Linked DNA regions of Homo sapiens: region 1 is linked to region 2. A link means that fine-mapping ties the variant in region 2 to the expression of a gene that starts in the linked region. Tissue or cell type: tibial nerve. Region 2 holds a variant in brackets; the other region holds the start of a gene. All regions are shown on one strand. Distances are from middle to middle. Region 1 holds the start of ZWINT (ZW10 interacting kinetochore protein). Region 2 has its middle 34 kb from the start of ZWINT.

What was found. PIP is the estimated chance that this variant, and not a neighbour inherited with it, causes the effect.
Region 1: it holds the start of ZWINT, and the variant in region 2 is fine-mapped to the expression of ZWINT in tibial nerve (GTEx, PIP above 0.99). The same link has a PIP of 0.9 or more in breast and cerebellar hemisphere.

Annotation. Positions count from the first base shown.
Region 1 is chr10:56,358,797-56,364,113 of GRCh38, forward strand. It overlaps ZWINT (ZW10 interacting kinetochore protein), which reads right to left and starts at 2,463. Exons shown (of 9, transcript NM_007057.4): 1 at 2,400-2,463; 2 at 1,497-1,587; 3 at 1,222-1,345; 4 at 891-1,057; 5 at 680-736; 6 at 9-151. The coding sequence starts at 2,440. It overlaps LOC124902546 (a long non-coding RNA gene), which reads left to right and starts at 2,663. Exons shown (of 2, transcript XR_007062372.1): 1 at 2,663-3,060; 2 at 5,229-5,317. RefSeq lists enhancers at 348-1,547, 693-1,433, 2,173-2,912, 2,261-2,430 and a silencer at 2,521-2,730.
Region 2 is chr10:56,392,352-56,397,741 of GRCh38, forward strand. No RefSeq gene overlaps it. Among named protein-coding and RNA genes, the nearest start is that of ZWINT, 34 kb to the left of the region's middle. The variant T/C (reference allele first, on the strand shown) is at 3,254.

The DNA.
Region 1 (5,317 bases), 34 kb before region 2:
GAACTTACCTCTGCAGCTTGTCCCGCTCCTGTTCTGCCTGCTGCTTCAGGTTTCCAAGTTTCTGAAACACCCTGTCAAGCTCCTGCTGAGTCCCTGTCTTACGCTCCCTCACCTCTGCAGAAACCTCCGCCAGATGCTGCAGATGCTTCTCCTGCCAGGAGTGAGCATGCAGACATTATGCATCAGATGTTGAAGTCTTAGAAACTCCCTCCAACCCCTCCAGCCTACACCCAGCTCAGGGCTCAGGCTCAATGATGAAAAGAGGGACTCTATTCACTTCAGGGTGGAGTAGGGGCCTAGAGAAAAGGAAAGATCAGAATGAGCTGTTCTAGGGTGAGGCATTCTTGCGGGGAAGGGGCACAAAGGTGATAACACTTATTTAACTTGCTATGTGCCAGGTACTATTTTAAAGTCCTTGCTGTAATGATCATTTAATCATCTTAATAACTCTCTAGAGTAGGTGGTATTATTGCCTTCATTTTAAATAAAGAAACAGAAAGTTAGGTGACCTGCCCAAGATCATGCAGTGGTAAGTGGTGACACTGAGATTCAAGCCCATGTTGGTATTTATATTATAGTGCCTCAAAGGAGGAAGCAAAACGGTTTTCTAGACAGGGGACACAGCCGATACAATGGCATGGTGGTGGGAAGGGATATTCTCCTAGGGGGACGAACCTACCTGTTGTAGCTGCCACTGGTTCTGGACTGCTCTGCGTTTCTCCATGGCCATTTGTTTCTACAGATAAGCAAGGGAGAAAGACCAAGAGAAGTCTATTTTTTCTGGCTAGAATTTTGGGAGATTGCAAGCTGGCACAACTCAGCTTGCTCACTCTTTCCCTCTTCCTTTCTAACTGCCCTTCCCTCCCTGTACTCAAGACCCCTGGGTGTACCTTGGCCTGGAGCTGCTCAAAGGCTTCCCGGAGTTGTGTCCGTTTCCTCTGGGCTTCCTCCATCTGAGTCAGGGCCTTGGTGAGGCCAATTTTGATGGCCTCTACGTGCTCCCTGTAGGTGGCCTTCAGCTCTTTCCATTGTTCCTTAGCTGCAATTGCCTTCTGTCCTGAGATGAGCCACCAGGAATGAGTACATGAGTGAGGGTGGCCTGCTAGCCTGCCTCCCTGCAACACTGGGCCTCCTTCCCATCAGCCAAATGGGAGACCTAACTGAAATCCTCCTTCCTTCCCCACTCAGGTCAGCTGCTACTACAATCCCCTGCCTACTCACGGCTCGTGTCTTCAGAAGCCAAGGGGTCGAGACCCTTAGCAGTGTCCTCCTGAGCCAGGATGTTCTGCAGGAAATCCGCTACCTGAAGCTGGCTGCAGAGCAGCTTGTCTTTCTTCTGAGAGTCCTGCTCAGAGGGAGGGCAGAGACAGGGAACATCCTTACCTCCTTACAGGTTTCCTTAAGTCTGCTCTCTGCCAGTGCTGCCCTGTATCTCAGTAAGAGGAGCCAGGACCAGACCCTGGCTTCTGAAAGGCTCGCTCTCATCTTGTACATACCACCACAAACTCAACCAGGATCTTGGCTGGCAGTTCTGCCTCCTCCTGCAGGCCTACAGGTTCCAAGATGCCTGCCACCTCAGCCAGGACCCTGGAGGGGCAAGGAAACACAGGAAATTGCAGTTTCTTGTGGTGCTAGTTCTACAGTTCGTGTGTGTACACAAACAAATGTGGATGTGTATATCAGTATATATAGTATTGAGAGTCTTGCCTTGACCAGAGTTTACACAAGGGCCTGAAGGGTCCACAGCCTGCAACCAGGAATGGCGTGCATGGAGGGCACACGGTGGTAATACGTGCCAAAAGGAAAATCAGCAGGGCTAGTGGATAAGGAGTTTGAGAAAAGAGCTGAAATTTTAAATAGGGAGTGTCTCACTGAAGAGAAATCATTTGAGTCAAGATGTGAAGGAAGCCAGGGAGATATGCAAGGAAGGGGAAGAATGCTGGGCCTTGGGATCCCTCCTGGCGCTGAGCACCAGCCTTGGGGCAGAGTCTTGGAATAGCTGAGAAAGGACTCAGGGCAGAGGGCTGGATGCCTCGGTCTACTCTAGGGTTTTTCATTATTAGGGACTGGAGCAATCTACGAAGGGGCAGGGATGGGGATGAGAAGTGACTGGGAATGTGTCGTGTTGGGACAAGAAGACAGAAGTGAAACCGTCTCCTAGAGCACATCCTGTGGATTATGTGGATGTGGGGAGCGGCGAACGGTCCCCCAAAGGCTGTACTCCTGGAGCAGGCAACAGACACCTCAGGAACCTAAGACGGGACTGCGGTGAGGATCACTTCACGGCAGGGTCGAACCTCAACAGCTGTACAGGGTCGAGGGCACCAATCATTACACATAGGGGCCCACAAGGTCCTCCCAGGCCCGGCCCCAGCTGCCACTTAGCCGCAAACACTTACTCTAGGGCTGCAGCTTCCGCCTCTGTCTCCGCTGCCTCCATCTTTCCAGGCGCCGAGTTCAGCTGCCTTCCCACAATCCCTAAGATTACTTTGAAGTCACAGTCGACTTCGCGCCGGGGCAGGCGATTGGCTGCAGAGGTTAGTGGGCGGGCATCAAGGACCATTGTGCGCTCTAATTGGCAGGCGCGGATTCGCTCGTTGGCGGGCCTCGCTGCTTGGCGCAAGCGCGGTTATGGCTAGGCGCGCACGGGCTCTGCGCCTGCGCGCTAGTCCTTACGCGGTGCCAGAGACTATAAGTGGGCTTGAGCTCGACCGCGCGCCTGTGGAAGTTCTTTCTCTACTCGAAAAAGGGAAAGCATTTCCTTGAGTTTGCGTTTTAAGGGAAACTTACAGCATTGACACTTTATTTAAAATATTCACTACTGCTGTAGAAAAAAAAAAACAAAACCCCGAAAAACAGTGGGGCTGTTTCTAAGACGCTGGGAATCAGTAAAGAATAGTGATCCGGGAGATACAGGAAGCAAATGATCTGCGCTCAAAAAGCGAGCTGCTTTCAAAGATATTAGTATTTTATAGATGCGATGCAGGAGAGTGAACTCAAGCAGAGCCCAGCCGATTGCCTGCGTTGGCAAAATAGAACAGATATTCTGGGGAGACCAAGGTAGGTAATGTTCTTTGCAGAGTACAGGAGAAAGATAACTGCTGAGAGAGAACTTGGTATTCATTCAGCTGAGTACTGAGCAGTATGTGTCTCAAGAAACTAGCTAAAAGATTTTTAAAGATACCAGGACATGGCCGGTCGCGGTGGCTCACGTCTGTAATCCCAGCACTTTGTGAGTCTGAGGCAGGTGAATTACGAGGTCAGGAGTTTGAGACCAGCCTGGCCAACATGGTGAAACCCCCGTCTCTACTAAAAGTACAAAAAAAATTAGTTGGGCGTGGTGGTGGGCGCTTGTAATCCCAGCTATTCGGGAGGCTGAGGCAGGAGAATTGCTTGAACCAGGGAGGCTGAGGTTGCAGTTAGCCGAAATTGCGCCACAGCACTACAGCCCTGGTGACAGTGCGAGACTCCGTCTCACAAAAAAAAAAAAATACATATATATATATATATAAATATATATATATGGACATTACAGAGGGTCAGAAATAGTCTCTATTTCCACTAACCAGGCTGGAAAACTTCATAGTCCGTAGGACACTGGACAGAGTACACACAAAAAAGTCTTGATTTGATAGTTGTTTACTAATTATTTAGTAGGCAGTAATTAGTCCTAGCTGATCAGTGCTGTAGTGCCATCTAACTCTTAAAAGTAAGACCCAAATGGATCAAACTTAACAAACCATGACAGATGACAAGACCAAACTTCAGCAGTATTTATAGAAATAGAAAAATGTTCACCAAAGGTGCAATTTACATATGTCATACAAAGAAAAATTACCAAGCTTGCAAAAAGAAAAAAAAAAACACATAATGAGGAGAAAAATCAATTGCTGATCAGAACTGAAGTAATGTTAGAATCAACAGGCAAGGACATTAAAACAGTTATTGTAACTATATCCCATATCTTCAAAAAGATATCAGAACTATAATGAAAAAGGTAAGTGGTGCTAAGGATGTAAAGAAAGTGGAATTCTCATGTTGATGGAAATGTAAACTGGTGCATAGGCTTTGAACGTAGGGTTACCATATGAGTCACAATTTCATTCCTAGTTATATATCCAAGACAAATAAAAACATGGGGACACAAAAGTACACAAACCTCTATAGCAGCATTATTCACAAAAGCTGAAAGGTAAAAACAACCCAAAGGCCCATTAGCTGGTGAGTGAAAATGCATACTTTCATTCAATGAAGTATTAATCAGTAGTAAAGAGAACTTTATTACATGCTAAATAATGGTTACTACATGCTAAAATATGAACCTTGAAAATATACTAAGTGAAAGAAGCTAATTACAAAAGACCACATAATATATTATTTCATTTATGTGAAATGTCTAGATTTGACAAATCTATAGCAACAGAAAGTAAATTTATATAGTGCTTGTCCAGGGCTGGGGATTGGTGGGAATGAGAGGTTGAGAGAGTATGGGGAGGGACTGCAAATGGATATAGTGTTTCTTTTAAAGGGATAAATAAAATGTTCTACACTTCGGTTATGGTGAAGGTTGTACAATTCTATACAGAAAACCGCTAAATTTACACTTTACTGCTGTCATAAAAGCTGTTAAAAAAGTTAATCAAAGACACAAAGCTTGTAATAAAGACCTAAATCAAACTTGTAGAGGTGAACACTACAATGTGATAGATGGAATTAGATGGTATTAATATAGTATGTTACACATTGCAGAATGAAAGTGAAACACAGCTCTAGAGAAACTACCCAAAATCAATCACAACATTAAAAAATGAAAATAAAGTAACATGAACAAATCAATGGTGAGCTGTGAGACAACTTCTAACAGCCTAATAATATACTTGAAAGTGGAGTCTCAGAGAGGCAAGGGGAGAGGACAAGAAAACAAGTAATAAAGACCAAAAAATTTGAAATGTGATGAAAAATATAAATTCATATATTCAAGAAGCTTCACAAATCTCAAACACAAGAAATATTAAGAAAATGACATCAAGTTATACCATAATTGCATAACTCAAAACCATTGATAAAAAATTCTAAAGTAATAAGGGGTGTTGGGGCACATGTTACATAGAAACAAAGATAAGGATTACGGGAAATTTCTTCTTGGAACAATGCAAGCAAGACAGTAGAGTAACATCTTTCAAGTACTGTAAGAATAAAAAAAAGTCAACCTTGATTTCTGTTTCCAGCAAACAGCTTTCAAAAATGAAGACTAACTAGGCTGGATGCAGTGGCTCACACCTATAATCCCAGCACTTTGGAAGGCCGAGGTGGGCAG
Region 2 (5,390 bases):
CATGCACACAGAGAAAAGACCGTGTGAAGACACAGCAAGAAGGTGGCAGTCTGCAAGCCTAGAAGAGTGATCCTAGCAGAAAACAACCCTGCCAGCACCTTGATCTTGGACATCCAGGCTTCAGAAGAGTGGGAAAATAAATTTCTTTTGCTTAAGCCACCCAAGTCTGCGGCATTTTTTATGGCAGTCCAAGCAGATTAATACACACATCTTATCATCAGTTGGAAATACAATATGATTCCATAACTTTGAACCATCCAAAATTATCTAATCATTGTACTGGAAGTCACATTCCTTTATTTAATAATTGATTAGATCACTTTTACTCTTCCTACAACCATTTTTGTATCATGCTGTATTTGTTCGTTGGGAATGAAAGTTTGTTTCCTATTATAAATACTGCAATGATTTTATCTCATTTCCCTGTCTAGAAAAATGAATCATGGAGGGACATTAACATTAAACAATAATTTTGGCAAATAATACTTTGTGTTTTAAGAATGAAGGCCATAAATTGCATTAATAACTTCACTCTATTAATCAGTGCCTCTTTTCATTATAAAATAAATACATATACACACATTAAATTACTCTATTGAGGGAAGGAAAAGCATTTGAATATGTGTTTCTGCATGTGGGGTAGTTATTAAACAAAAAAAATTTAAAGAAATAGAACATTTTTAAATTTTAAAAATATATAATGGCATATTTAACAGTTACGAAACTATGCTATGTTTCTCATGAAAAATGAATATAATAATTGCAGAGTGAATAAAAAGGGAGAATAAGAAATGTATGTGAGCATGTCTCTTTCCTAAAAACTTACACACAGAAGTTCATTGTGTAACTAACCATTGCTGAATGACTGGATTTGTAATCCAAGGAATGTTCTCTGTATCACTAGTGAAAGTAAGTGGAGCTCAAACAATGTGACACAAATCTGAAAAACCATAACACTTAGTTTTTGGTTGCTATAACAAATCACTATAAACTGGGTAGTTTATAAACAACTTACTTCTCACATTGCAAGAGGTTGACAAGTCCAAGATGAAGATGCAGTACATTAGGTATCTGGTGAGTGCCTGCTTACTGGTTCTTGGGCAGTGATCTTTTTGCCCCTGTCTTCACATGTTGGAAATTGGGAATGAGCTCCTTTAGTTCTCTTTTATAAAGGCACTAGTTCCATTCATGAGGCTCAGCTCTCATGACCTAATGATCTCCCAAAGGCCCTACCTTCTACTACCTTGGGGGTTTGTATATAATACACAAATTTTGAGAGATCACAAACATCCAGATCACTTCACTTTGATAGATTGAATCACCTTAATATGAGAATAATGCCTTCCAGAATTACCTGAGGCCTGAAAAGAGCATTAAGTATAATCAGCTGCCTTTAGTCTGATGAAAATTTGTAATTTCCATTTCAGAGGCAAGAAGCAGAGCTGTCAAGTGACTTAGATATGGTAATACAGCTAACAAGTCATCACTTAGGATTTAGAATGCCTGTTTTCTTTATCCATGTTGCTGCTTATTCAGTGAGTGGTTTTTCCCACTTTATACTGTATTTATATGTGGTAACGCTATTTGTGAGCTTTGGGGAATAGTTATGTACTGAATAAACACTTATGCAAGTTTATATTAATCACATTATTTTTCAACTGTGTGTTCCATTCTTTCTCAGAAAAATAAAGATGGTACGTTTTTACCAAATCTAAGTGACATGGTCAGTCATTAATTAGTAAAAAAAAAATTCCCAAATGCACAAAATCCTTCCTTTTTCTAAATAGGATATTATTTCTACTTTACAAAGCTAATAGCTATAGCTTCTCTAGAGACAAGTCCAACTGCCCAAAATGTGGCAAAATTATAATGAAAAGATAACTTTTAAAATGTACCTCATTAGTCTTTAGTATATATCTATGAAGGAGGTAACTGTTGGCTTAAAATGTATATAGGATGAGAGCTTGAAAAAAATTAGAGGTAAAGTTAATATTCTAAATGTTACAGTTTATATGTTAAAGAGAGATTTGGGCTGGAAATAATTTGGAAATTATGTAGATTAAATTAAAAATATTTTATACAAAACATCTTTGCCAACATTCTCAGGTTTTTCATTTGTAATATTTTCTTAAAGAAACAAAATGAAGTAAAATGACTGTAAATACTGTAGTAAAATAATTTTTTAGAAACGTTATAATTTCCATTATAGTATACTAATTACTACCATAGTAATATCCACAGTTTAAAAATTTTTCCATTTTGATAAGTGAAAAATATTTTATTTTTGAAATTTACATTTACTTGAGGTAAATTACTTTCAACATGTGATTTAATGCCCAAACTAGCATGAAATGCAAAAGTAGAAAAATTTGCAAAGTTTCAAATATTTTTTTTTATTATTATTATACTTTTAAGTTTTAGGGTTCATGTGCACAACGTGCAGGTTAGTTACATATGTATACATGTGCCATGCTGGTGTGCTGCACTCATTAACTCGTCATTTAGCATTAGGTATATCTCCTAATGCTATCCCTCCCCCCTCCCCCACCCCAGAACAGTCCCCAGAGTGCGATGTTCCCCTTCCTGTGTCCATGTGTTCTCATTGTTCAATTCCCACCTATGAGTGAGAACATGCGGTGTTTGGTTTTTTGTTCTTGAGATAGTTTACTGAGAATGATGATTTCCAATTTCATCCATGTCCCTACAAAGGACATGAACTCACCATTTTTTATGGCTGCATAGTATTCCATGGTGTATATGTGCCACATTTTCTTAATCCAGTCTATCATTGTTGGACATGTGGATTGGTTCCAAGTCTTTGCTATTGTGAATAGTGCCGCAATAAACATACGTGTGCATGTGTTTTTATAGCAGCATGATTTATAGTCCTTTGGGTATATACCCAGTAATGGGATGGCTGGGTCAAATGGTATTTCTAGTTCTAGATCCCTGAGGAATCGCCACACTGACTTCCACAATGGTTGAACTAGTTTACAATCCCACCAACAGTATAAAAGTGTTCCTATTTCTCCACATCCTCTCCAGCACCTGTTGTTTCCTGACTTTTTAATGATTGCCATTCTAACTGGTGTGAGATGGTATCTCATTGTGGTTTTGATTTGCATTTCTCTGATGGCCAGTGATGGTGAGCATTTTTTCATGTGTTTTTTGGCTGCATAAATGTCTTCTTTTGAGAAGTGTCTGTTCATGTCCTTCGCCCACTTTTTGATGGGGTTGTTTTTTTCTTGTAAAT[T/C]TGTTTGAGTTCATTGTAGATTCTGGATATTAGCCCTTTGTCAGATAAGTAGGTTGTGAAAATTTTCTCCCATTTTGTAGGTTGCCTGTTCACTCTGATGGTAGTTTCTTTTGCTGTGCAGAAGCTCTTGAGTTTAATTAGATCCCATTTGTCAATTTTGGCTTTTGTTGCCATTGCTTTTGGTGTTTTAGACATGAAGTCCTTGCCCATGCCTATGTCCTGAATGGTAATGCCTAGGTTTTCTTCTAGGGTTTTTATGGTTTTAGGTCTAATGTTTAAGTCTTTAATCCATCTTGAATTAAGTTTTGTATAAGGTGTAAGGAAGGGATCCAGTTTCAGCTTTCTACATATGGCTAGCCGGTTTTCTCAAATATTTTTTTCTAATGCTTCAGTTTTTAGGAAGCTACCGGAAAATACATCCCACAGAAATGAGAAAGCAAATTACAAGAGAAGAAATTTCTTAAAATATGGATCTTAACAAAAGATAGTTGAATGGTAAATTTGGATAAATAAATAGACGATGTTCAGGAAAATGTCCGAGTCATTGTTGTCTCTCCTGTGCTATCACTCTTTCACTGTGAAAAGCCCCTGGGACTTAGAATCTGTCTAGAGTGTAAAGAGTTATAGAAAAATCTTGAGTTGGCTACAGAAATTTACAAATAAATGGGATTAATCCAAACTGGCAAGGTTTTTTGTTTTTTGTTTTTTTATGTTTGACAGAATGGAAATGTATTGTAAAAGCAATGCAGTTATAGTAATAAAGTTACGTATTTTAATATTTGTGTTTATTTTCTAGAAAAATATATATCAGGTCCTATATTAGTGTTCTCCTGAGGAACAGAACACTATATATATATAAAGAGATTCATTATAAGAAACTAGATCACATAATTATGGAGGCTGGAAAGTCCAAAATCTGAAGTGTGACCTGAACCATCAGGCTTGAGACCCAGAAGATCTGATGTTTCAGTTTCATCTGAAAACTTGCAAGCAGAAATCCAGGAAAGCTGATGTGCAGATGAAGCCTGAAGGCAGTGTGAGAGGCTGGTCTTTGTGTTCTATTTAAGCCTTCAGCTGATTGGATGAGGCCCATCCAAATTATGGAGGCCAGTCTGCTTACTCAAAGATCACCAATTTAAATGTTAATCTCTACCATCTCACACCAGTCAGAATGACTATTACTAAAAGTAAAAAGACAACAGATGCTGGTGAGGCTGGGGAGAAAATGGCATGCTCATACACTGTTGGTTTAAATATAAGTTAGTTCAGCCATTGGGAAAGCAGTGTGAAGATTTCTCAAAGAACTTAAACTAGAACTACCATTCGACTTAGCAATCCCATTACTGGCTATAAACCCAAAGAAAACTAAATCATTATACCAATAAGATACATACACTCATATGTTTATCACTGCCCTATTTGTGGTAGCAAAGACGTGGAATTAAACTAAGTGCCCATCAATGGGTGTACTGGATAAAGAAAATGTGGTACATATATACCATGGAATACTATTCAGCCTTAAAAAGAATGAAATCATGTCCTTTGCATTAAATGAATAGAGCTGGAGGCCATAATCCTAAGAGAATTAACACAGGAAAAGAAAACTAAACAGTACATGTTTTTATTTATAAATGAGAGTTAAACATTGAACATTTATGGACATAAACATGGGAACAATAGACACTCCTAACTACCAGTGGGATGAAGGAAGGAGGGAGATGTGGGTTGAAAAACTACCTATTTTACTATATGCACCATCTGGGTGCAATATACCTATATAACAAACCTGCATGTGTACCCTGTGTATCTAAAATAATAGTTCAAATTGAAAAAATAAATATAAAAATAAATAAATAAATAAATGTTTATCTCATCCAAATACACCCTCCGAATTGACACCTAAAATTAACTATCATAGATCCTTTGTTCAAATACTTGCATGGAATGTTTTCAGAGGTGAAACATGGGTGATGCTAAAGCTGATTCTTTTTGTTTTTGTTTTTCTTTTTTTGGTGCAGTGACACAATCTTGGCTCAGTGCAACCTCCACCTCCTTGGCTCAAGGGATCCTCCTGTCTCAGCCTCTTGAGTAGCTGGGACTACAGGTGTGTGCCACCACATCCAGCTAAGTTTTGTAT